7 linked regions of the Homo sapiens genome follow. The protein of the gene in region 4 purifies or fractionates together with the protein of the main gene of each other region. This does not show direct contact. Each region holds a gene or a part of one and is shown on either strand. Other genes may lie near its edges.

Region 1 (3,500 bases), on a different chromosome or scaffold from region 4:
TATAATTTAGAAATAGAATGTATATTACATTTCTTAAAAGTTCGTATCTTTGTATTTAGAAATTTCAAAGATATAAACTTTTAAGAGTTCTGATATACATAATCAAATTACTTTTTAGAAAGTCTACTTATCTTCATTCCCTCCAACAGTACATATGTGTCCATCAAAATGGAGTATTCTTATTTTTAAAATATATTTTTTTCTAATTTGGTAACTAAAGTGGAACTGCTATCTTGTAATAATTTTAACTTATTTGCTTACTAAGGCTAATAAGAATACTTTCTATATTTGTTAGACATCTATGTTTCTTTAATGCAGGGACTACCAAACTATGGTTGATGAGTCAAATCTGGTGCTTGGTTTTGTAATGCCTGTTTCAGAACACATGCTGTCCATGTTGTTACATATTGTCTATAGCTCCATTCACTCATATAGCCCACAAAGTTTGAAAATATTTACCATCTGGCTCTTTATAGAAAATGTTTGCTGACTCCTGCTTTAATGATTTGTCTGTTCAGTCCTTTCTCACATTTTTCTATTGGAACAATTGTACTTTTCTTCTTTTTTTTTTTTTTTTATTATACTCTAAGTTTTAGGGTACATGTGCACATTGTGCAGGTTAGTTACCTATGTATACATGTGCCATGCTGGTGCGCTGCACCCACTAATGTGTCATCTAGCATTAGGTATATCTCCCAATGCTATCCCTCCCCCCTCCCCCGACCCCACCACAGTCCCCAGAGTGTGATATTCCCCTTCCTGTGTCCATGTGATCTCATTGTTCAATTCCCACCTATGAGTGAGAATATGCGGTGTTTGGTTTTTTGTTCTTGCGATAGTTTACTGAGAATGATGGTTTCCAATTTCATCCATGTCCCTACAAAGGATATGAACTCATCATTTTTTATGGCTGCATAGTATTCCATGGTGTATATGTGCCACATTTTCTTAATCCAGTCTATCATTGTTGGACATTTGGGTTGGTTCCAAGTCTTTGCTATTGTGAATAGTGCCGCAATAAACATACGTGTGCATGTGTCTTTATAGCAGCATGATTTATAGCCCTTTGGGTATATACCCAGTAATGGGATGGCTGGGTCAAATGGTATTTCTAGTTCTAGATCCCTGAGGAATCGCCACACTGACTTCCACAATGGTTGAACTAGTTTACAGTCCCACCAACAGTGTAAAAGTGTTCCTATTTCTCCACATCCTCTCCAGCACCTGTTGTTTCCTGACTTTTTAATGATTGCCATTCTAACTGGTGTGAGATGATATCTCATAGTGGTTTTGATTTGCATTTCTCTGATGGCCAGTGATGATGAGCATTTCTTCATGTGTTTTTTGGCTGCATAAATGTCTTCTTTTGAGAAGTGTCTGTTCATGTCCTTTGCCCACTTTTTGATGGGGTTGTTTGTTTTTTTCTTGTAAATTTGTTGGAGTTCATTGTAGATTCTGGATATTAGCCCTTTGTCAGATGAGTAGGTTGCGAAAATTTTCTCCCATGTTGTAGGTTGCCTGTTCACTCTGATGGTAGTTTCTTTTGCTGTGCAGAAGCTCTTTAGTTGAATTAGATCCCATTTGTCAATTTTGGCTTTGGTTGCCATTGCTTTTGGTGTTTTGGACATGAAGTCCTTGCCCATGCCTATGTCCTGAATGGTAATGCCTAGGTTTTCTTCTAGGGTTTTTATGGTTTTAGGTCTAACATTTAAATCTTTAATCCATCTTGAATTGATTTTTGTATAAGGTGTAAGGAAGGGATCCAGTTTCAGCTTTCTACATATGGCTAGCCAGTTTTCCCAGCACCATTTATTAAATAGGGAATCCTTTCCCCATTGCTTGTTTTTCTCAGGTTTGTCAAAGATCAGATAGTTGTAGATATGCGGCATTATTTCTGAGGGCTCTGTTCTGTTCCATTGATCTATATCTCTGTTTTGGTACCAGTACCATGCTGTTTTGGTTACTGTAGCCTTGTAGTATAGTTTGAAGTCAGGTAGTGTGATGCCTCCAGCTTTGTTCTTTTGGCTTAGGATTGACTTGGCAATGCGGGCTCTTTTTTGGTTCCATATGAACTTTAAAGTAGTTTTTTCCAATTCTGTGAAGAAAGTCATTGGTAGCTTGATGGGGATGGCATTGAATCTGTAAATTACCTTGGGCAGTATGGCCATTTTCACGATATTGATTCTTCCTACCCATGAGCATGGAATGTTCTTCCATTTGTTTGTGTCCTCTTTTATTTCCTTGAGCGGTGGTTTGTAGTTCTCCTTGAAGAGGTCCTTCACATCCCTTGTAAGTTGGATTCCTAGGTATTTTATTCTCTTTGAAGCAATTGTGAATGGGAGTTCACCCATGATTTGGCTCTCTGTTTGTCTGTTGTTGGTGTATAAGAATGCTTGTGATTTTTGTACATTGATTTTGTATCCTGAGACTTTGCTGAAGTTGCTTATCAGCTTAAGGAGATTTTGGGCTGAGACGATGGGGTTTTCTAGATAAACAATCATGTCGTCTGCAAACAGGGACAATTTGACTTCCTCTTTTCCTAATTGAATACCCTTTATTTCCTTCTCCTGCCTGATTGCCCTGGCCAGAACTTCCAACACTATGTTGAATAGGAGCGGTGAGAGAGGGCATCCCTGTCTTGTGCCAGTTTTCAAAGGGAATGCTTCCAGTTTTTGCCCATTCAGTATGATATTGGCTGTGGGTTTGTCATAGATAGCTCTTATTATTTTGAAATACGTCCCATCAATACCTAATTTATTGAGAGTTTTTAGCATGAAGGGTTGTTGAATTTTGTCAAAGGCTTTTTCTGCATCTATTGAGATAATCATGTGGTTTTTGTCTTTGGCTCTGTTTATATGCTGGATTACATTTATTGATTTGTGTATATTGAACCAGCCTTGCATCCCAGGGATGAAGCCCACTTGCTCATGGTGGAAAAGCTTTTTGATGTGCTGCTGGATTCGGTTTGCCAGTATTTTATTGAGGATTTTTGCATCAATGTTCATCAAGGATATTGGTCTAAAATTCTCTTTTTTGGTTGTGTCTCTGCCCGGCTTTGGTATCAGGATGATGCTGGCTTCATAAAATGAGTTAGGGAGGACTCCCTCTTTTTCTATTGATTGGAATAGTTTCAGAAGGAATGGTACCAGTTCCTCCTTGTACCTCTGGTAGAATTCTGCTGTGAATCCATCTGGTCCTGGACTCTTTTCGGTTGGTAAGCTATTGATTATTGCCACAATTTCAGAGCCTGTTATTGGTCTATTCAGAGATTCAACTTCTTCCTGGTTTAGTCTTGGGAGAGTGTATGTGTCGAGGAATGTATCCATTTCTTCTAGATTTTCTAGTTTATTTGCGTAGAGGTGTTTGTAGTATTCTCTGATGGTAGTTTGTATTTCTGTGGGATTGGTGGTGATATCCCCTTTATCATTTTTTATTGTGTCTATTTGATTCTTCTCTCTTTTTTTCTTTATTAGTCTTGCTAGCGGTCTATCAATTTTGTT
Region 2 (2,616 bases), on a different chromosome or scaffold from region 4:
AGTTGTAAAAAAGCACTATGATTAAAAACTCCTTTATTGGCAGTATTCTAAAACCTCATGTTAGGTTGACAGTCTTCTTCCCTTTCCCCAAATTTTAATACCCACCCCAGGTTTCTAAAGCAAAAAATTGAAGAGCATTTTCCTCCTGTGTTTATAATCCCAACTAAAACACTATGTAATACATGTTGGAAATATTACTGTGCTTTGTATATGTATTAATTTTTTTTGCCCTAAATTGGCCTCTAGGAATGTGAAAGTAGATGTACCCACCTGATAAGAAAAAGTGAGCTAAGTAACTAACTTGATAACTAGGCATTCAACAAGTCTTTTTCTCTATTTCATAGAATCAGTGTCACCTTAAATTATAATAGGTTTGCACAGAATTCGTGAATTCTTGAGATAGAGTCTTGCTCTGTTGCCCAGGCTGGAGTGCAGTGGCGTGATCTCGTTCACTGCAACCTCTGCCTCCCAGGTTCAGGCAATTCTCCTGCCTCAGCCACCTGAGTAGCTGGGATTACAGGTGTGTTCCACCACGCCCAGCTAATTTTTGTATTTTTAGTAGAGAGGGGTTTCGCCATGTTGGTCATTCTGGTCTTGAACTCCTGGCCTCAAGTGGTGCACCCACCTTGGCCTCCCAAAGTGATAGGATTACAGGCATCACTGTATCTGGCTGAAATTAGTGTATTCTTTAAAGTTCATATTTTTCATTAATTCACAGAAGAATTGTAAAAAAGGTAACACGCAGTTGACATTCCATTTTTCCAGAAAGACAGATAATTACATACTGTAGAGGATGACTCAAAAGTCTGTTTCAAGCCACTGACTTCCTAAACTAATGAAGGCCTATTCAAAGTCACTTAATTCAGCTGTTTTTTTTTTTTTTTTGATAAATACAAAGATACATGTAAAGTTTTACTTACCTGATTTTAAAAACAGGCTACCAAAATTTATCCAAATATATTAAAAAATGAGACTGTTTTAAAAACCTTTCGTTTCCATATTGTGACTCCACTAAGCGGGTAAAAAGTTCAGGACAGAGATGGAAAGGAAAGAAGGAAACAGGAAGAAGTGAAACTAGGAAGGTGGTGCCAGTGGCACATGGATGAAGAAAGAGAGATCATCAGCCATGGAGAATTTTGTAATGTAAGTAGAGAGAGAGATTGGGTAGGAAGACAGGCTTCACAGTTTGTAAAGTGTAAGGGAACTACCCATCGTACCCTGTCATTGACTAGGGCTGTGAGTTATGTAGTTCTGTCTCCTCTTGCAAAAGACTTACCACTTCTGGCAAGTGATTAACCACTTCTGGCAACTCTTCATTTCTTCTTATCCTTGAATATTCATCTACATCACTCTAAACAGCACAGCCCCAGAAGCATGGAAAGGGGAGTTATTAGTATGGAAAGGGGAGTTACTCTTCTGGTGTAGTGGTCCGATTGAGTCCATGGCTTCCCAGCCTTACCAGAGGTGATAAAAATGTCAATTCCTTTGGGGCCAATCTTGCTCCTCCAGTGTGTTTTAGCCCTAATGAGGTCATGGTTATTTCTAGACTTCTGAGACTTACTGTGGCTTTGAATTGACACAAACACTAATTTTCTGTCAAAGGCTAGAGTGATGGATGTTATATGCCTGAATTTTCTTTGAACATTTTATTTTAAAAGAGATACTTTGGGCTTTTCATGAAACTAAAATTCTGGAACCCTAGAGCAGTCTATTATATCTGTCACCACAAGGACTTTCCTTAAAAAGCTCCCTCCATAAGCACTTGGATGTGTAAACAAGATCCTTTCACAGATCTTTTTCTCTTCCTCTCCATATCCCAACTTGTCTTGGAGACTACTTTTTGAATTATAAATCCCTTTCTGCATTTCTATTATTAATTTTTATTTGTAAAATTGCTAAAATAGCTAAATTTGGCCATTTAACCTGCATTTAAAATCTAGGAATGTGGGGTGATCATCTTTGTACATAAATTACCTAATGACCCTGTCCATGCTGTGCTACGTGTTTAGGTGGAATAACACTCCCATGGATGAAGCACTGCACTTTGGACACCATGATGTATTTAAAATTCTCCAAGAATACCAAGTCCAGTACACACCTCAAGGAGATTCTGACAACGGGAAGGAAAATCAAACCGTCCATAAGAATCTTGATGGATTGTTGTAATGGTCTCAAATCCCAAGATTTAAATCACTTACCTATTTAATTGTGGAAAATGATTATGAAGAACATGTGTATTTCTATCTGGTAGTGATGTATATTTTACATTTGTCATTTCAGTGTTACTGGAGTTTTCTTCATTGTGCACACAGGACAAATCTGATCTCTTTGGGAAAAAATAGAAATAAAACAATCTCCCTCCATAATGTGAGCAATATTACCTCGTGCATTGTATAATTTGATGTAAAAGAAATAGTTACCAATGCTAGCTTGTGTGGTCTTCCATGATTTATTTGTGTTTTGTGAATTTTCAATTTATGGTGATGATCTGCTGATATGCATTTATAAAGTAAGCTCTGTTGTACAGTCTGTCCAAATGGGTCAAGGTTGCCTTTAGAAGCAAATAGTGTGATTTTCAAGACTTCAAATACAAATTTAGTTTAAGTGTTTGAACAA
Region 3 (3,500 bases), on a different chromosome or scaffold from region 4:
GGCACGCGCCCACCACGCCTGGCTAAATTTTTTTTGTATTTTTAGTAGAGACGGGGTTTCACCGTGTTGGCCAGGCTGGTCTCGAACTCCTGACCTCAGGTGATCCTCCCGCCTCGGCCTCCCAAAGTGCTGGGATTATAGGCATGAGACACCGCACTCAGTCTTGTCTCCCAATTCTTTGTATCTCTGTTTCCAAATCAGTCTCTGACTCTGTTCCTGCATGGGGCTCCCTTTAAGGTGCAGCTTCCTCTTTCTTTAACCCTTTCTCCATGTCTCTGTCTCCCTCCCAGCAGTTCTCAGCCCTGGCTGCACATTCCAGTTACCAGAGGAGCTCCGGTAAATATAATGCCCAGACTCCACTCCCCAAATTCTGATTAAATTGGCCTGAGACATGGGAATTTGTGTTTTGTTAAAAAGCACCTCAGATAATTCTAATGTGCGATCAAGGTTAAGAAGGCCCCTCGGCCGGGCACAGTGGCTCATGCCTATGATCCCAGCACTTTGGGAGGCCGAGGTGGGCAGATCATCTGAAGTCAGGAGGTCGAGACCAGCCTGGCCAACGTGGAGAAACCCTGTCTCTACTAAAAATACAAAATCAGCCGGGCGTGGTGGTGCATGCCTGTAATCCCAGCTACTCAAGAGGCTGAGGCAGGAGAATCGCTTGAACCTGGGAGACAGAGGTTGCGGTGAGCCGAGATCACACCATTGCACTCCAGCCTGGGAAACAAGAGAGAAACTCCGTCTCAAAAAAAAAAAAAAAAAGAAGGCCCCGAAACAATTGTCCTAGGTCCCTCTGTCTTCTGGTGACTCTTCTTTCTCTGTCCACACCTCCTCTTCTTTATGCTTATCTCTTTTTCTTTTTAGAGACAGGGTCTCACTCTGTCGCCCAGGCTGGAGTGCAATGGCACCATCATAACTCACTGCAGCCTCAAATTCCTGAGCTCAAGTGATCCTCTTCCCTCAGCCTCCTGAGTAGCTGAGACCACACGTGCATACCACCACGCTCACCTAATTTTTTATTGAGACAGGGTCTCACTATGTTGCCCAGGCTGGTCTGGAACTCCAGAACTCACGTGATCCTCCTGCCTCGGCCTCCCAAAGTGCTGGGATTACAGGTGTGGGCTACCAGGCTTGACCTCTCCCTTTCTAAGCCAGTTATTTCTGCATCTCTTGCCTTCTCCCCATTTGTCCTATCTATCTAGATCTCTTTCTCTCTTTTCCTCCCTTTGATGTTATCTCTCCATCTCTGATTTCCTCTGCTACCTCTCCTCTTGTCCCTAAAGACGTCTCGGGTCTCTCTCCTTCTTTTGTTGTCACCATCTCTGTCAATTACCATATCTGGCATTTTCTGTGTCCTTTCTACATGTCAGGGGCTGTTCCCAGTGCCTTCTGTGCACTTACTAATTTTTGTCCTTACATGAGGTCTCCACCTTCATAAAATGTATTTTACAGAAAACTTCCATTTTACAGAAAAGGAAATTGAGGTTCAGAGAAGTGAAGTAATTTGCCCAGAGTCACGTCACAAAGCGAGGACACAGCAGAGTCATCCCTTAATCCCTGGGCAGCCTGGTGCCAAAGCTCTAACCAGTGCCTTTGACTGCCTCTGCAGACTGTGAATCTATCTATGTATATATATATAGATTTTTTTTTTTTGAGACAGAGTTTCACTCTTGCTGCCCAGGCTGGAGTGCAATGGTGCGATCTTGGTTCACTGCAATCTCTACCTCCTGGGTACAAGCAAGTGAATCTATATTTTTAAAACTTGAACCAGGCGGGGCATGGTAGCTCACGCCTATAATCCCAGCACTTTGGGAGGCTGAGGCAGGTGGATCACGAGGTGAGGAGTTCGAGATCAGCTTGACCAACATGGTGAAACCCCATCTCTACTAAAAATACAGAAATTAGCGGTCAGGCACAGTGGCTCACGTCTGTAATCCTGGCACTTTAGGAGGCCAAGGCAGGCGGATCATGAGGTCAGGAGATCGAGACCATCCTGGCCAACATGGTGAAACCCTGTCTCCCTAAGAAAAAAAAAAAAAAAAACAACAAAAAATAGTTGGACGTGGTGGCGTGCATCTGTAACCCCCGCTACTCAGGAGGCTGAGGCAGGAGAATTGCTTGAACCTGGGAGGTGGAGGTTGCAGTGAGCTGAGATCATGCCACTGCACTCCAGTCTGGGTGACAGAGCAAGACTCCATCTCAAAAACAAAAACAAAAACAAAACTTGAACCATGATCAGCAATAAGAAGACATTTACGTTATAACCAGTGCAGACCAAGGTATATGTTTCACGAAACAAGACTTTCCCTTGCTCTACAGGTGCATGCATATTTTCTGTCCTATTCTTCTTTTTAAATGCTGGTTGCAACCCACTAAATTATTTCATGTGACTTGCACGACATCCGGCTGTGTAACCCAAAGTCAAGTGACCTCCCCTTTGTTAGCCTCAATGTCCTCATGTACGGAATAGAACACTCATTGATTCAGTGCAGCATGTGTGTATATGGGACACTGCACATTACAGGTTCTCAGTAAATGTTATTATGGCCAGGAGCAGTGGCTCATGCCTAGAACCCCAGCACTTCGGGAGGCCGAGGCAGGAGGATCGCTTGAGACCAACTTGAGCAACATAGGGAGACCCTATCTCTACAAAAAAATATTTTTTAAATTACCCAGGCCAGGCACAGTGGCTTCCCGGGCACCGTGGCTCACATCTGTAAATCCCAACACTTTGGGAGGCCGAAGTGGGTGGATCACTTGAGGTCAGGAGTTCAAGACCAGCCTGGCCAACATGGTGAAATTCTGTCTCTACTAAAAGTACAAAAATTAGCCAGGCGGCCAGGTGTGGTGGCTCACGCCTGTAATCCCAGCACTTGGGAAGGCTGAGGCAGGCGGATCACAAAGCGAGGACATAGCAGAGTCATCCCTTGAACCCTGGGCAGCCTGGTGCCAAAGCTCTACCACTGCCTGACAAACATGGTGAAACCCCGTCTCTACTAAAAATACAAAAATTAGCCGGGTGTGGTGGATGCATGCCTGTAATCCCAGCTACTTGGGAGTGTGAGGCAGGAGAATCGGCTTGAACCCGGGAGGTGGAGGTTGCAGTGAGCCAAGATGGCGCCACTGCACTCCAGCCTGGGTGACAGAGGGATACTCCGTCTCAAAAAAAAAAAAAAAAAAATAGCCAGGCATAGTGGCAGGCACCTGTAATCCCAGCTACTCAGGAGGCTGTGGCAGGAGAATTGCTTGAATGTAGGAGGCAGAGGTTGCAATGAGCCAAGACGGTGCCACTGCACTCCAGCCTGGGCAACAGAGCGAGACTCTGTCTCAAAGGAAAAAAAAAAAAAAATTACCCGGGCGGATGGTGCACAACTGTGGTCCCAGCTACTCAGGAGGCTGAGGCGAGAGAATTGCTTGAGCCCAGAAGTTTGAGGCTGCAGTGATCGCGCCACTGCACTCCAGCCTGGGTGACAAAGTGAGACTCTGTCTCAAAAAAAAAA
Region 4 (3,500 bases):
AGACTCAGAAGGAAGAAGGTGAGAGGAGGGGCGTGAAGGTAAAAAAACTACGTATTGGGTATAATGTACACTACTCAGCTTACAGATGCACTAAAATCTCAGGATTCACCACTATAGAATTCATCCATGTTACAAAAAAACGCTCGAACCCAAAAAGCTATTGAAATACACACACACACACACACACACACACACACACACACTACTTATAAATTAAAAAAAGGTAATTTAAAGTACTTTTACAATTATACCATGACCAGCAAACCAGCCCTCACTGCTGAAGGCATTGTTTGTCTCCACCAAGACAGTCTACATCTGCCACTGTTCAGAGTCCAAGATTCTAAGCAGCGTCCTCTATAGTCATCTAGGAAGAGATCTGGGGATCAACTGAGTCTTTTGGCTTAGAGATGGGTTAAGTTCTTTATGTTTGAGTGCCCACTGGAGTGCCCCATAATTGTTTGTTAACTATGGAAAGAAAAGAAGAAAGACAGGCAAGAAAGAGGGAAGAAAATAGGAAGAAAATGAAGAAGGAAGGGAGGGAGGAAATAAAGGAAAGAGAAAGGAAAAGAAGGAGGAAAGGAAGGGAAAAAGATGAATGGAAGGAAGGAAATAGGGAACAAAGAAGAAGGGAGGAGAGAGGAAAATGGAGAATGAAATAACGGGGAAAAGAATGAAAAAAAGGAGGAAAGAAAATGAAGGAGGGAAGGAAGAAAACAGGAAAGGGGAAAGAAAGGAAAGAAAGAGGAAAGGAAGGAGTGAGCAAGGAAGAAAAAAGAAAAGAAAGAAGGGAGGAAGAATGGAGAGAAATGGAGAGAGGAGAAGGGAAAGAAAGAAGAAAGTGAGGGAGGAGAAAAAAGAGGATGAGAGAAAGAGTTATCAGGCAGGGTGAGAGAAAGGCATGGCCCAGGAAAGAAGCTAAGTGGAAAGGCTCTTCTTTATCTGTACTGCGTTCTCCCCAGGTTGTCATCTGTGCCAATCCAAAAGGCATGAAAATCAAGTCTGGATCCATGGGGAAGGCGTCCCCACCCTACGATGTGCAGGTAGCAGCCTCCCCCAACTTCTGGCAAGGCCTGGCATGGAGAGGAGAAAGACACACAGGCCTGGTTGGCACGGGCTGCTGGGCTGCTGGGAGAGGCCCAGGGTGTAGACACTCACGTATGCACCTCTGTGATGATTTCCTTACCAGATTGTGGATGATGAGGGCAACGTCCTGCCTCCTGGAGAAGAGGGGAATGTTGCCGTCCGTATCAGACCCACTCGGCCCTTCTGTTTCTTCAATTGCTATTTGGTAAGAGACGGGGAACAGCCGTTCTCATGACAGTGACTGTGTGCTAAGCATTGTGCACCACACTTTGTAAATATCTATTTGTTTAATCCTTACAATGACTGCATGAGGTAGGTTGCTACTATTATTAATAAAGTTCTGTTATTGATAAGGAAGACTATTATTGATAAGGAAGCTACTACAAAGGGGAAGTGACTTATCCAGCATCATGCAAATAGTACAGGCAGGACATGGGATTTAAATGTGGGTGTGTCTGAAAGCGTAAACATGACATGAGGGCAGCACTGTTGTTTTAATGAGGTGAAAATCGAGGTACAGTAAAGGAAAGGAGCTTCTGAAGGTCAAACTGCAGCCGGGTGCAGTGGCTCACATCTGTAATCTCAGCACTTTCAGAGGCCGAGGCAGGTGGATCACCTGAGGTCAGGAGTTCAACACCAGCCTGGTCAGCATAGTGAAACCCCGTTTCTACCAAAAATACAAAAATCAGCCAGGCATGGTGGCGCACGCCTCTATTCCCAGCTACTTGGGAGGCTGAGACAGGAGAATTGCTTGAACCAGGGAGGTTGCCGTGAGCCAGGATCATTCCACTGCCCTCCAGCCTGGGTGAGGGAACGAGACTCCGTATCAAAAAAAAAAAATAATAATAATAATAAAATAAATAAATACATAAAGGTCAAACTGCACTATTGTGTCAGAGCTGTCTTCAGGATTCTCTTTGTGGTTTGCTAGCAGGGCACAAACCTGGGATTTCAGTCCAAGTTTCTGGGATAATTCAGTAACTGCTTCTCTTTTGTATTCATCTTGGGTGGTGTTTATGTCGGGCTTTCTTTTCTTCACAGCTTTCTCTATAAAACTCTCAGACCTGGCTGTGCATTAGAAACACCTGGCAAGCCTCAGTTATTGCTGATGCTTGAGCCCCACCTCAGCTTAATTAAAATCAACATTTCTGTTGGTGTGGATCAGTTTCCCAGGCGATTCGAATGTCAAGCCTGAGAGCCACTGCTTAATAGAAATGCCATCTCATGTGTCTACTAAGCTGTCAATCAGCTACAGAATTAGAAGGAGCAGAAATAAATCAGTCCATTTCTTTTCAAAATGTTGCATTTTAGTGGTTTTTCTGTCACTACAAGAGAAATAATCTTCTACTTTATTTTGTTTAAAATCACAGAAACTTACAAAATCCCACAACATAGTAATCATGCCAAGCTGAGATCATGTTAACATTTAATGTATTTTCTGCTAATCAGTCTTGGAAGCAATAGTAAATCTTTGACCCCACTGAAAAAATGCATTCATTCATTATTTATTGTCGACTTCGTGCCGCTCGGTGTGGAGCAGGACTCTGGTACTTAGTGTGGAGCAGGACTCTGGTACTTACTGCACTTGTACACTTTCTTTCTGGTTGTGAGATTGTTCCACTGAGTGTACTAAAGTAATTTGAAAAGTTATTTGCTAGACAACAATCTAGTTTTTTTGACTGTTTCTTTCCGTCACCTGTACCAACAGTTAGTTTTCTTTCCAGATCATTCTTTTTTTTTTTTTTTTTTTTTTTTTTGTGACAGTGTCTTCTCACTCTGTTGCCCAGGCTGGAGTACAGTGGTGCGATCTTGGCTCACTGCACTTCCACCTCCTGGGCTCAAGCAACTCTCGCGCTCCAGTCTCCCAAGTAACTGGGACTACAGGCGCACACCACTTCACCGGGGTAATTTTGGTATTTTTAGTAGAGACAGGGTTTTGCCACCTTGGCCAGACTGGTCTGGAATTTCTGGCCTCAAGTGATCTGCCCGCCTCGGGCAACTCCCAAAGTGCTGGGATTACAGGCATCAGCCACAGTGCCCGGCCCAGCTCATTCTTAATTAAGAGAAAAATATTAAATGTCTTCGTGAGAATCAGGAAACATGTGAAAATTATTATAGAGGATCTCAGACCAAAATTGTTCTGTGAGTTTTGATAAGCTAAGCTCATTCTCCCCCTACAATAAACATAAACATTTCAAATTCACGTTGGTCATTCCCATTTAGCTGAAATTGCACATGTCAGTTAAATGAATATGCCCGTGTCAACTGTATATCCCATATAAGGAATGTGCTTATTTTCCTAGGGAAACAAATTATCAAATGCACAAATATTTGTTATAGTGCTGGCTGTTTATAACAGATAAAAAAGGTGGAGGGACTATCTAAATTTCTAATATCAGAAATTAGTTATGTAAAGG
Region 5 (3,500 bases), on a different chromosome or scaffold from region 4:
TTGTGGTTGCAATCAGCATGGCCTGAGGGCCCAGGAAGATCACACAGCTGACACCCTACCTGCTTTCCTTCCAGTTACTCTGACCTTCCATGTCTGTACCCTCCTCTCCAGGCTGAGTATGCCCATCGTGGTTTCTCCGAGGTGAAAACTCCCACACTGTTTTCTACGAAGCTCTGGGAACAGTCAGGGCACTGGGAGCATTATCAGGAAGACATGTTTGCCGTGCAGCCCCCAGGCTCTGACAGGCCTCCCAGCTCCCAGAGTGACGATTCTACCAGGCATATCACAGATACACTCGCCCTCAAGCCTATGAACTGCCCTGCACACTGGTAAGCTGGGAGCTAGGGTTACAATCAGGTTGCTAAATATTAAATAATAGAAAGCACCTTGGGGCCGGGCACGGTGGCTCACGCCTGTAATCCCAACACTTTGGGAGGCCGAGGCGGGCGGATCACCTGAGGTCGGGAGTTTGAGACCAGCCTGACCAACATGGAGAAACCCTGTCTCTACTAAAAATACAAAAAATTAGCCGGGCACGGTGGCGGGCGCCTGTAGTCCCAGCTACTCAGGAGGCTGAGGCAGGCTAATGGCGTGAACCCAGGAGGTGGAGCTTGCAGTGAGCCGAGATCGCGCCACTGCACTCCAGCCTGGGTGACACAGCGAGACTCCATCTCAAAAAAAAAAAAAAAAAGAAAGCACCTTGGAAAGAGTATTGGGACACCGATTTGAGCCTACAGTCTTCCCCCTAGCTAACCATGTAAATTTGGGAAACTCATTTTACCTCTTTAGGTCTCAGTCTCCTTAAAGTTGCTATCTAAGGCTCCTCCTTCAGCTCAGTGACCATCACAGAACAGGGAAATGGTAAACGATGTCTGTTATTGTGTTACTGAGAAATCCACTTTTGAACCTCAGGGCTCAGACTGTGATGAGTGGGATTGACAGGACTCAGTGGGAGGATGTGCTGAGGCTGGAGAGGGTTATAGCAGATGGTGCAGAGAAAGTAGGCAAGCAGATTGGGTGGAGGAGCAGTCTTCGGGGGCTAGTCCTCCCTATGGCCCTGACCCCTCTGCACCCCAACCTCAGCCTGATGTTCGCCCACCGGCCCAGATCCTGGCGGGAACTGCCCCTGCGACTAGCTGACTTTGGGGCTCTACACCGGGCCGAAGCCTCTGGTGGTCTGGGGGGACTGACCCGACTGCGGTGCTTCCAGCAGGATGACGCTCACATCTTCTGTACAACAGATCAGGTGGCCTTTCCCTGGCTCCACCAAAGCTTTTCTAAACCACCTTTCTTTCTCCCTATGAACCTGCAAACCCCTGATCTTTATTTGCCCCCTGTATGTACTATAATTCAGCTACATTCTACCCCCAGCTTGCTTCCGCTTCCTCTCTGTTTTTGCCCTTTGTTTTCCTCAAACTGCCAGCATCCCTGATCTCTAGCGGGCTCACAGCTCACTGACCCTTATTTCCTGCCCCTAGCTGGAAGCAGAGATCCAAAGCTGTCTTGATTTCCTCCGTTCCGTCTATGCCGTTCTTGGCTTCTCCTTCCGCCTGGCACTGTCCACCCGGCCATCTGGCTTCCTGGGGGACCCTTGCCTTTGGGACCAGGCCGAACAGGTGAGTAGGAGGTAGAGAAATAGAGGCAGATAAACCACTCTCTGGTGGGAAGGAGTGGAGAATACAGTAATCAAGGTTCTCAGAGGCATCTGGTGAGTGGGTCATTTGTTGGGGACTGACCGGATGTGTTGCTTTTGAAGTCTAAGATGATGTATTCCACTCTTGTCTCATTCCTTCAAAGGTCCTTAAACAGGCCCTGAAGGAATTTGGAGAACCCTGGGACCTCAACTCTGGAGATGGTGCCTTCTATGGACCTAAGGTAAGCTTGGGACCCTGGTTAGTGTTGTATTTATTTATTTTTTGCTTTGTTTTAGTAAATATTTAATAGATACAAAGAATTTTTTTTTTTGAGACAGTCTCACTCTGTCACCCAGGCTAAAATGCAGTGGTGTGATCTCAGCTCACTGCAACCTCCAGCTCCCTGGTTCAAGCAATTCCCCTGCCTCAGCCTCCCGAGTAGCTGGGATTACAGGTGTACGCCACCACACCCGGCTAATTTTTTTGTATTTTTAATAGAGATGGGGTTTCGCCATGTTGGCCAGACTGGTCTCGAACTCCTGACCTCAGGCAATCCACCCCACTTGGCCTCCCAAAGTGCTGGGATTACAGGCGTGAGCCACCGCACCCGGCCACAAAGAAATATTTTTAAACTTACGTAGGATATAAAGAAAAACAATATACTTTCTGCCCTCTTGGCATCTGCAATCTAGTGAGGGCTGCTGAAGGTAAATAGGCCATATCAGTGCTGCGAGATCTGTGCTGTGTAGGTACCAAGAGAGCACGTTAGCTGGGGTTAGCATTACTCGGGGAGGTTACAAAAGGTGTCCTGCAGGAATCACTTTCCAATCTGAAAGGTGAGTGTTGGCCAAGTAAAGATGTGTTTCAGGAGGGAACAGTGTAGGCAGAGGCTGGGGATAAGGATGAAAACACATGGCAGACCAATCTGGGCAACACAGGGAGACCCTGTGTCTACCAAAAAAAAAAAAAAAAATTAGCCGGGTGCAGTAGCTTGTGCCTGTGGTCCCAGCTACCCAGCAGGCTGAGATGGGAGGATCACCTGGTCCCAGGAGGTAGAGGCTGCAGTGAGCCGAGATTGCGCCCCACTGCACTCCAGCCTGGGTGATAGAGTGAGACCCTGTCTCAAAAAAAAAGAAGCCAAGGGGAAAAAAGGACTGAAAAGTGTCCACTGGATTTAGTAAAAAGGCTGCTGGATTTCAAAGGACCATTTTCAGTAAAGTAGGGCCTGAGGGTGGAGTTAGAAGATGAATAAATGAGGCCTGTGTGGTGGCTCACGCCTGTAATCCCAGCACTTTGGGAGGCCGACGTGGGTGGATCACTTGAGGTCAGGAGTTCGAGACCAGCCTGGCCAACGTGGCGAAACCCCATCTCTACTAAAAATATAAAAATTGGCCGGGTGAGGTGTTAGGACACACCTGTAGTCCCAACTACTCAGTAGCCTGAGGCAGGAGAATCGCTGAACCTGGGAAGTTGCAGTGAGCCAAGATCACACCACTGCACCCTAGCCTGGGCAACAGAGCAAGACTCCGTCCCAAAAAGTAAAAATAAAACAGGCTGGGGGCGGTGGCTCACGCCTATAATCCCAGCACTTTGGGAGGCTGAGGCAGGTGGATCACCTGAGGTCAGGGGTTTGAGACCCTGTCTCTACTAAAAATACAAAAATTAGCCCAGCGTGGTGACAGGCACCTGTAAACCCAGGAGGCGGAGGTTGCAGTGAGCCGAGGTCGCACCACTGCACTCCAGCCTGGGCGACAGAGTGAGGCTCCATCTCAGAAAAATAATAATAAAATGAAAAATAAAATAAATGCTATGATGAGAGGAAGTCTATTTGGAGGGAGAAGTTGTTGTAAAGGGAAGTTCCTGGAG
Region 6 (3,500 bases), on a different chromosome or scaffold from region 4:
TGTACCTCTCTGGGATGAGGAGACCCCCCACCTCGCCGGCCCTCCAGGGCATTCACCAAGTGCAGGGTGTGGGTTCAGAGCTTCGAACTCAACAGGACCCTGCAGGCCCACAGCACTCCTCGAGGCAGGGCCCAACACCTGGCCCACTTTAGACACAGGAAACCGAAGCCCAGGGGTCACATGGGAGCTGGTGTGGCAGCCGGGGAACCCACACAGGTGGTCTGACTTTGGGGTCAATGCCCCTGAGCAAGACATGCTTTGGAGGACTGCTGGTACTTGGGGGCACAGGGGGTGTGGAGGCGGGTGGGCTTCTCAGCCAGAGGACTTGGACTCTAATCCTAACTTGCTATTTAGCTGAGAGAAACTACCCTAACCATGAGGTGTCCTCAACTAGGACATGGGGCCCACATTGCCTGCTCCACGTTGAGAGGATGCAGCGGGAAACATGTCTGCCCATGGCTGTGCGGGGCCCAGCATGCCGGGGGAATGTTGGGAAAAGGACTTGTGGGGTGCCTGTATAAACTGGCCATAAAAATAGGGGACAATAAGTTGTGGAAAGCCAGAAGAGGCCACGGAGGAGGAAAGCCTACTAATTGCCATCATGTTCCCATGCTCAGAGCGAGACCCGCTCTCCTATCTGTAAACACTGTGTTCAAGGAGAAAGACACTCCTTTGAAACACTGGGAAGTGGACAGATGTGCAGGCTCCTAGTTAAGCCCGCTCCCACCAGCTACTCTCCGATAAGTTAAAGACACGCTGTTTGAGCACAAAGGAGATTCATTTAAACTGCTATTGCTATAGATTATGCCTCCTATGAGGCACTGCCTCCCTTTCACTGTTTCGCCCTGAACATGTGCTTCTTAGAGCTAAGTGACTGCACTCAATAGTGTGGAGACCAGAACTCTGCGCCTTTTGCAGCCTCCATTTTGCAACTGGCCCCTGGCTCCCACCTTCATGAACTCTTAACCTGTCTCTTCTCATTCCTTTGTTGCCAGCAGACTTCGGGTACCCTACAGGTGGAGTTGAGGCTGGTCCCCAACAGGGGAAGAGGCCTGGGTGTGCAGCCCCAGCACGGCCCCCAAGAGGCACCTTTGATGAGGGTGTTGTATGCCTTGGCCCAGGAGTTGCGGTGGTTGGAGGTGAGGATGCCCACAGGCTCCTTGTTGGTCTGTAGGGATGAGTTCCAGATCTTCTCCAGCTGCACAAAGATCTGATCCGCAGTGAGGGGTGTCCCGTCACTGTGGTACACATCCAGCTCAAAAAACTGTTGGGGCACAGGCAGGTAAGAGGAGGGAGCTGAGTGGGGACCTCAGGCTGAGAGCAGCCACCTCCCCACACCTGCCTCCTCCTGGCCTTGGCCTTGGAGGGGATGGAGTCAGGCCAAGGGTGAGAGGGGGAGGAGGTCCTTGGATCACCCTTCTGGGCTGGGCAGGCCCACGGCCCCTCCTGGCCTCCCTGGGCCCCCAATGGAGAAGCCAGGGGCGCCCATTCCTGGGGCACGTGGGCACGTGTGCTGGGGAACCCCAGTGGGGAAGCCGACTGCGGCCGTCCGGCTGTACTCCTGCAGCAGGGCCGGGGCTTGTAGGTGTGGGTGGGGGCCACCCACCTGGTAGTTGTGTACCACGGTGATGTGCGTGGGAGGCTTCTTGGTCTTGCTGAAGTTGCTGACTGTGTCCTGCTTGGGGCCCGGCACTCGGCAGGAGGACAAGATCTGATAGTACTGGTTCATGCACAGTGGCTTCCCCCCCAGGTACTCCACGGGCAGGGTCTCGCTATGGGGTAGAGGGGCAGTGAGGCCACCACTGGGCAAGTGAATGGGGAGGAGGGCAGGGTAGACAGGGACCTGCTAGGTACTGCTGGGGGCTCACACAGTGTCCCTGCTCCCACTCCCAGATGAGCAGGACACCTCAGGGCTGTGCTGTGGGCAGGGGGCTCGCTTTCTGCCCCAGATGGGCCCTGTTCAGAAGTCATCTAGAAACTCCCTCCTTTCCCCTCTCTGGGCTTCAGTTTGTCACAGGGGAGATGAAGCAGCGAATAAAACTCTGGGGTCCTCTTTAGTTGGGATGGGACAGGGTCACCCACCAAGAGGAGATTCCAGCAGCTGGAGCAGGGCCCAGGGCCCAAGCTGGCATGCCGGGCCAGGGCTGGGGTCAGAGGTGGCTGTGGTAATTAAGCAGGCCTGGGCAGGTGTGGGGCTGGGCAGGGGTGGGGATGCTCACTTGTCAATCATGACCTTGAAATCCAACACACCCTCAATGAGTTTGGCAGCAAATCTGGAAAGATTGATTAGAGATTAGAAGCTGCGTGGACACCCTGAGGGAGGCCCCGGGCTAGGGACACCTGCTTGGGGAGCGGGAGGTCTAGTCTTCCAGCCTCTCTCACCGCTTCCAGAAAGCCTGGGAGCGCAAGGGAGGGGCCTGCGAGTCCCAGCTTGCCAGCCTGTGTGTGCTTCTTCATAACCTCTAGAGGGAGCATGGTCGGGAGGGCTCGGGGAAGTGCTGGTGGCCAAGGGCCTAGTAGGACTTGGGTGCTGGCCCCCTGCAGCTGGAGTGTGGCTTGGTTAGGGGTCAGTGGGCTGGGTCTACCCACAAAGGGCCTGAGCTCCTGAACCTCAGCCTAGAATCTGGAGGGGGTGTCATCTGCTCTGAAGCATCGGTTCTGGAGGCCCCGGGCCCCTGGGGTGGTGTGATGGGAGAGCAGTGGCTCCGGTGTTCCCTCCACTAGGTCCCTTCCCCACTCTGGGCCTCTGTGTCCCCCAGGCCGCCTTCCTCCCAGGGCTGTCTGGCCCATGGCAACCACCCTCAATGCTTGGGGCCGCCCCTGGATCCCACCATGGGGACCAGTGGCTGGAGTTCCTGGGCCTGAACCCCGGCCCTTCCCAGGGTACCCTGGTCCCTTTAAGAGAAGCAGGTGGTGGCAGCCAGTGGCTGGTCCTTGGGCAGGAGATCCTTGTCACTGGTATTTTTATCTCTGGTAGGACTGGAATAGGGGCTGGGGCAGGTGACCTGGCTGAATGTGGAAAAGAGGACTGTGTACAGAGGTCACCCCTGTGGCTAGCTGAGAAGAGTGGAAAGGAGAGGTGAAGTGCTAAAACTGGGGTCGGGGAGAAGCCTCAGGTATGGAGGAGGATGGGGCCTCTGCGAAGATGTGGTGGTTAACAGCCATGAGGCTTTAGAGCTGGAGAGACCCTGCTTCCTGAATGGGGTCTTGGGCAGCTCCCTTCCCTGCTCCGAGCCTCAATTTCCCCATTTGTAAAATAGGGAGGATGCTCCCTACTTCATAAGGCTGCTTGTGGGGCAGAAAGATAAACAGGGTCGGGGCCCCTCCAAGCGGCTGGGCGAAGTGAACTCGAGGGGCCCGGCTGCCTCCTGGCCCCCAAACCCCAGCCACTCACCGGAGCTGACCCTGCAGGTCCACGAAGTCCTGCTTGGGTAGCATCACGCCTGGGCTCGAGTAGATGACCACAGGCTGGCGGTACTGGAGGTAGGCGGTCTTGAGCC
Region 7 (3,500 bases), on a different chromosome or scaffold from region 4:
AGGGTTCTAGGGGCTGAAATTCAAGCAGGCAGTCAGGCCTGCTTTGATGCCTAGATTAGGAATAATTGGTGAAGAGTGCTGAATTACAGTGTAAGTTTAGACCTATAACTTAATTTCCACCTGTACAGTGGTATTAAACATGAGTTTTTATCTTAAAAAGACCACGCAGGTCATAATATGTGGATACTGGGGGGCTGAGTCACGAGAAGGGATTAAGATGGTAACATCAACACCCACATTAGTCTGGGCACATTATTCAAAGCAGGGAAGTGTCTTTCCTTTTGGTAGGGGTGACCATGTGGATGAAGTACTACCATTCAGAGTACAGGACAGAGAGGTTGCTGAGTATAGATGCCAAATGTTGGACCCTATATCTGAGGACATCTGAGTCCCGAATGATGTTCAAAAAGAGGCTTCGACAAATTCTAGTTAGTAGTAACTGGTCAAAAAAGGACTCTGCCACGTACCTGCCCAGATCTCTGAGGTTACATGAGGGGCCAGTGGAGCAGCCATTACCATCAGGGCACACAAAGCATCCTCAAACTCGGGGCTGTGGAGAATGACGCTCTGAGAGGCTTGCTAAGGAAGAGGAAAAAAAAGTAAGAAGACTGAGGTGTAAAAATAAGCACGGGTAAGAAAGACCATTAATGTATCTGAAGTCCAGAGACACAAGCTGGTAGGAAGAAACCCCCTTTGCCATCCATTTCTGCTTGGGACAATGAACTTCCCCTACTTAATGATAGCACTGAGATAAACTACAGCAAGCCAGGTGTGGTAGCTGACACTTATACTCCCACTACTTTGGGAGGCCAAGAATTTGAGACCAGCCTGGGCACTATAGTGAGACCTCATCTCTATGAAAAATTAAAAAATAAAAAAAAATTAGCCAGGCACAGTTGCACACACCTATAGTCCCAGTTACTTAGGAGGCTGAAGTGGGAGGATCACTTAAGACCAGGAGGTCAAGGCTGCAGTGAGCTATGACTGCACCACTGCACTGAAGCTTGGGCAACAGTGAGACCCTATCTTTAAAAAAAAAAAAAAGCTCCAGCAGCAGCAACAACAAATACATGATGTTAACTTATTTAGTCCTCACCACTCTTTGAGGGTGGTATTCTTACCCCATTGGACAGATGAAGCAGCTAAGGATCAGCAAGGGAGGGCAATCTGCCCCCAGGCACACTGTAGCCAAACTCTTACCCACTCTGCTAGGTTTCCTCTGTGCTGCAGGTCCACAGAGAAATGCACTGAGACCTGCTCAAAGGTGTTAAACTGTGAAACACCTAGGGCAGGGGGGCCTCTATACCCTACTTAGGGACCCCTATTCTCTGAAATACCTTTGGTCAATTCCGGCAAACATAGTTGTGTTTAGCTCTGTGTGTTATTATTAAGGACTTCCCAAATTCCGGAATGGAAAGACAGAAATTCATTACAGTTTCATTTCAGTGTCTTGCTTTATTTTTTCTGATTAAAAAACTAACACACACTCAGCACAGAATATACAGGAAATGAAAAACTACTCATAATTATACAACCTAGAAAAAAAGGTATATTTTATCCTTGTCTCCAAAAATGCAAAAATGTGTATATAAATGCTTATTACACATGTAACATTTTCAGGATTGGTATTCTTGCCATATGAACACTTCCTTTTTTTTAATTTTAAAAATTAATTTTTTTTTTAAATAGAGATGGGGTATCTCACTATATTGCTCAGGCTGGTCTCGAAATCCTGGGCTCAAGCCATCTGCCTGCCCTGGCCTCCCAAAATGCTAGGATTACATGTGTGAACCACTGCACCCAGCTCATATGAACACTTTTGTATCTTTTTTTTTTGAGACAGAGTCTCTCTCTGTTGCCCAGGCTGGAGTGCAGTGGTGTGATCTCAGCTCACTGCAACCTCTGCCTACAGGTTTAAGCAATCCTCCTGCCTCAGCCTCCTGAGTGCCTGGGACTACAGGTGCACAGGTGTGCACCACCACACCCTGGCTGATTTTTTGTATTTTTAGTAGAGACAGGGTTTCACCATGTTGAGCAGGTTGGTGTTGAACTCCTGACCTCAAGCGATCTATCTGCCTTGACCTCCCGCAGTGCTGGGATTACAGGCGTGAGCCACTGTGCCTGGCCTTGTGTCATGTGTTTTTACTTAACATTATATCATAAACAGTTTCTGATATTAAGTATTCTTCAAGACATGAGGTTAATGGTGGTGGCACATTCCTTTCTTATTGATATGACATAAGTCATTTCACAATTCCCCCATCAGAGGACACTGGGGTTCCGAGTCTCTGTGATTATAAATTATCTGCAGTGAACACTCCTGGATCAGAGGATATAACACAATCAACCTGATAGCCGAAGTGCTTCCTGGCAAGGTTACACCAACCACACCTATCACTGGCGTGTAAAAGTCTATTCTGCCATCTTTGCAATAGCATGGGGAATAATTATGCCTTTATTTTTATTTTTTTGAGAGAGAGTCTCGCTTTGTCACCCAGGCTAGAGTACAGTGGCACCAAACAGCTCACTGCAACCTCAAATTCCTGGGCTCAAGGGATCCTCCCGCCTCAGCCTCCTGAGTAGCTAGAACTACAGGTGCATGCCACCACACTTGGCTAATTTTTAAATTTTTTACAGATGAAGTCTTGTTATGTTGCCCAGGCTGGTCTCAAACTCCTGAGCTCAATCGATCCTGCTGCCTCGGCCTCCCAAAGTGCTGGAATTACAGGCATGAGCCACTGTGCCTGGCCCTGAATAGTTACGTTAAAGTATTCTCAGCAAATTTGACAGGTATTTAAAAAAAAACAAAAACAAAAACAAAAGCATCTTGTTTTAAATTTGCCTTTCATGATAATTAGAGAGGCAGACTTTTTTTTCTCCACAAATGTATTGGCTATTTCTATAACATTTTCTATGAGTTATTATCTTTTCATATGCTTTGACCATTTTTGGTTAGGTATTTTCATATTAATATGTAAGAGTGCTTTACAAGGATATTAACCTTCTGTCTGACATGTTATAAATTTTTTTAACATACTGAAAATGTCAAGTTTTATGTAGTCAAATTTGAAATTTCTTCCATTGTTCTTTTTTATCTTTATTTTACTTTTTAAAAATTACCCTTTTAATTTTATTTTTAGAGACAGAGTCTCCTGCTCTGTTGCCCAGGATGGGTTCAAGCGATCCTCTCGCCTCAGCTTCCCGAGTAGCTACAGCTACAGCTGTATGCCACCATGCCAGGCTAATTATTTTATTTTTTTACTTTGTTTTTGAGGCGGAGTCTTGCTTTGTCGCCCAGGCTGAAGTGCAGTGGCGTGATCTTGGCTCACTGCATGCTCCGCCACCTGGGTTCACACCATTCTCCTGCCTCAGCCTCCTGAGTAGCTGGGACTACTGGTGCCTGCCACCACGCCTGGCTAATTTTTTGTATTTTTTAGTAGAGATGGGGTTTCACTGTGTTAGCCAGGATGGTCTTGATCTCCTGACCTCGTGATCCGCCT

The links.
Region 1: the proteins of ACSM5 (region 4) and TMLHE purify together in Homo sapiens (affinity purification with mass spectrometry; one large-scale study listed by BioGRID and IntAct). This does not show direct contact.
Region 2: the proteins of ACSM5 (region 4) and GLS purify together in Homo sapiens (affinity purification with mass spectrometry; one large-scale study listed by BioGRID and IntAct). This does not show direct contact.
Region 3: the proteins of ACSM5 (region 4) and COQ8B purify together in Homo sapiens (affinity purification with mass spectrometry; one large-scale study listed by BioGRID and IntAct). This does not show direct contact.
Region 5: the proteins of ACSM5 (region 4) and TARS2 purify together in Homo sapiens (affinity purification with mass spectrometry; one large-scale study listed by BioGRID and IntAct). This does not show direct contact.
Region 6: the proteins of ACSM5 (region 4) and CRAT purify together in Homo sapiens (affinity purification with mass spectrometry; one large-scale study listed by BioGRID and IntAct). This does not show direct contact.
Region 7: the proteins of ACSM5 (region 4) and LARS2 purify together in Homo sapiens (affinity purification with mass spectrometry; 2 studies listed by BioGRID and IntAct, with this or other methods). This does not show direct contact.

Annotation. Positions count from the first base shown.
Region 1 is NC_000023.11:155,515,453-155,518,952, forward strand, and holds part of TMLHE (trimethyllysine dioxygenase, mitochondrial isoform 1 precursor), read right to left. Parts: intron 1-3,500. UniProt on the Homo sapiens protein: Converts trimethyllysine (TML) into hydroxytrimethyllysine (HTML).
Region 2 is NC_000002.12:190,960,821-190,963,436, forward strand, and holds part of GLS (glutaminase kidney isoform, mitochondrial isoform 1 precursor), read left to right. Parts: intron 1-2,009; coding exon 2,010-2,166; coding exon of another isoform or gene 2,167-2,206; 3' UTR 2,207-2,616. UniProt on the Homo sapiens protein: Catalyzes the first reaction in the primary pathway for the renal catabolism of glutamine. Plays a role in maintaining acid-base homeostasis. Regulates the levels of the neurotransmitter glutamate, the main excitatory neurotransmitter in the brain.
Region 3 is NC_000019.10:40,710,387-40,713,886, forward strand, and holds part of COQ8B (atypical kinase COQ8B, mitochondrial), read right to left. Parts: intron 1-3,500.
Region 4 is NC_000016.10:20,430,034-20,433,533, forward strand, and holds part of ACSM5 (acyl-coenzyme A synthetase ACSM5, mitochondrial), read left to right. Parts: intron 1-959; coding exon 960-1,040; intron 1,041-1,186; coding exon 1,187-1,288; intron 1,289-3,500. UniProt on the Homo sapiens protein: Catalyzes the activation of fatty acids by CoA to produce an acyl-CoA, the first step in fatty acid metabolism.
Region 5 is NC_000001.11:150,497,419-150,500,918, forward strand, and holds part of TARS2 (threonine--tRNA ligase, mitochondrial), read left to right. Parts: intron 1-111; coding exon 112-329; intron 330-1,083; coding exon 1,084-1,246; intron 1,247-1,478; coding exon 1,479-1,616; intron 1,617-1,797; coding exon 1,798-1,875; intron 1,876-3,500. UniProt on the Homo sapiens protein: Catalyzes the attachment of threonine to tRNA(Thr) in a two-step reaction: threonine is first activated by ATP to form Thr-AMP and then transferred to the acceptor end of tRNA(Thr). Also edits incorrectly charged tRNA(Thr) via its editing domain.
Region 6 is NC_000009.12:129,100,794-129,104,293, forward strand, and holds part of CRAT (carnitine O-acetyltransferase), read right to left. Parts: coding exon 3,395-3,500; intron 2,274-3,394; coding exon 2,220-2,273; intron 1,773-2,219; coding exon 1,607-1,772; intron 1,265-1,606; coding exon 1,090-1,264; intron 1-1,089. UniProt on the Homo sapiens protein: Catalyzes the reversible transfer of acyl groups from carnitine to coenzyme A (CoA) and regulates the acyl-CoA/CoA ratio. Also plays a crucial role in the transport of fatty acids for beta-oxidation.
Region 7 is NC_000003.12:45,521,076-45,524,575, reverse strand, and holds part of LARS2 (leucine--tRNA ligase, mitochondrial), read right to left. Parts: intron 580-3,500; coding exon 468-579; intron 1-467.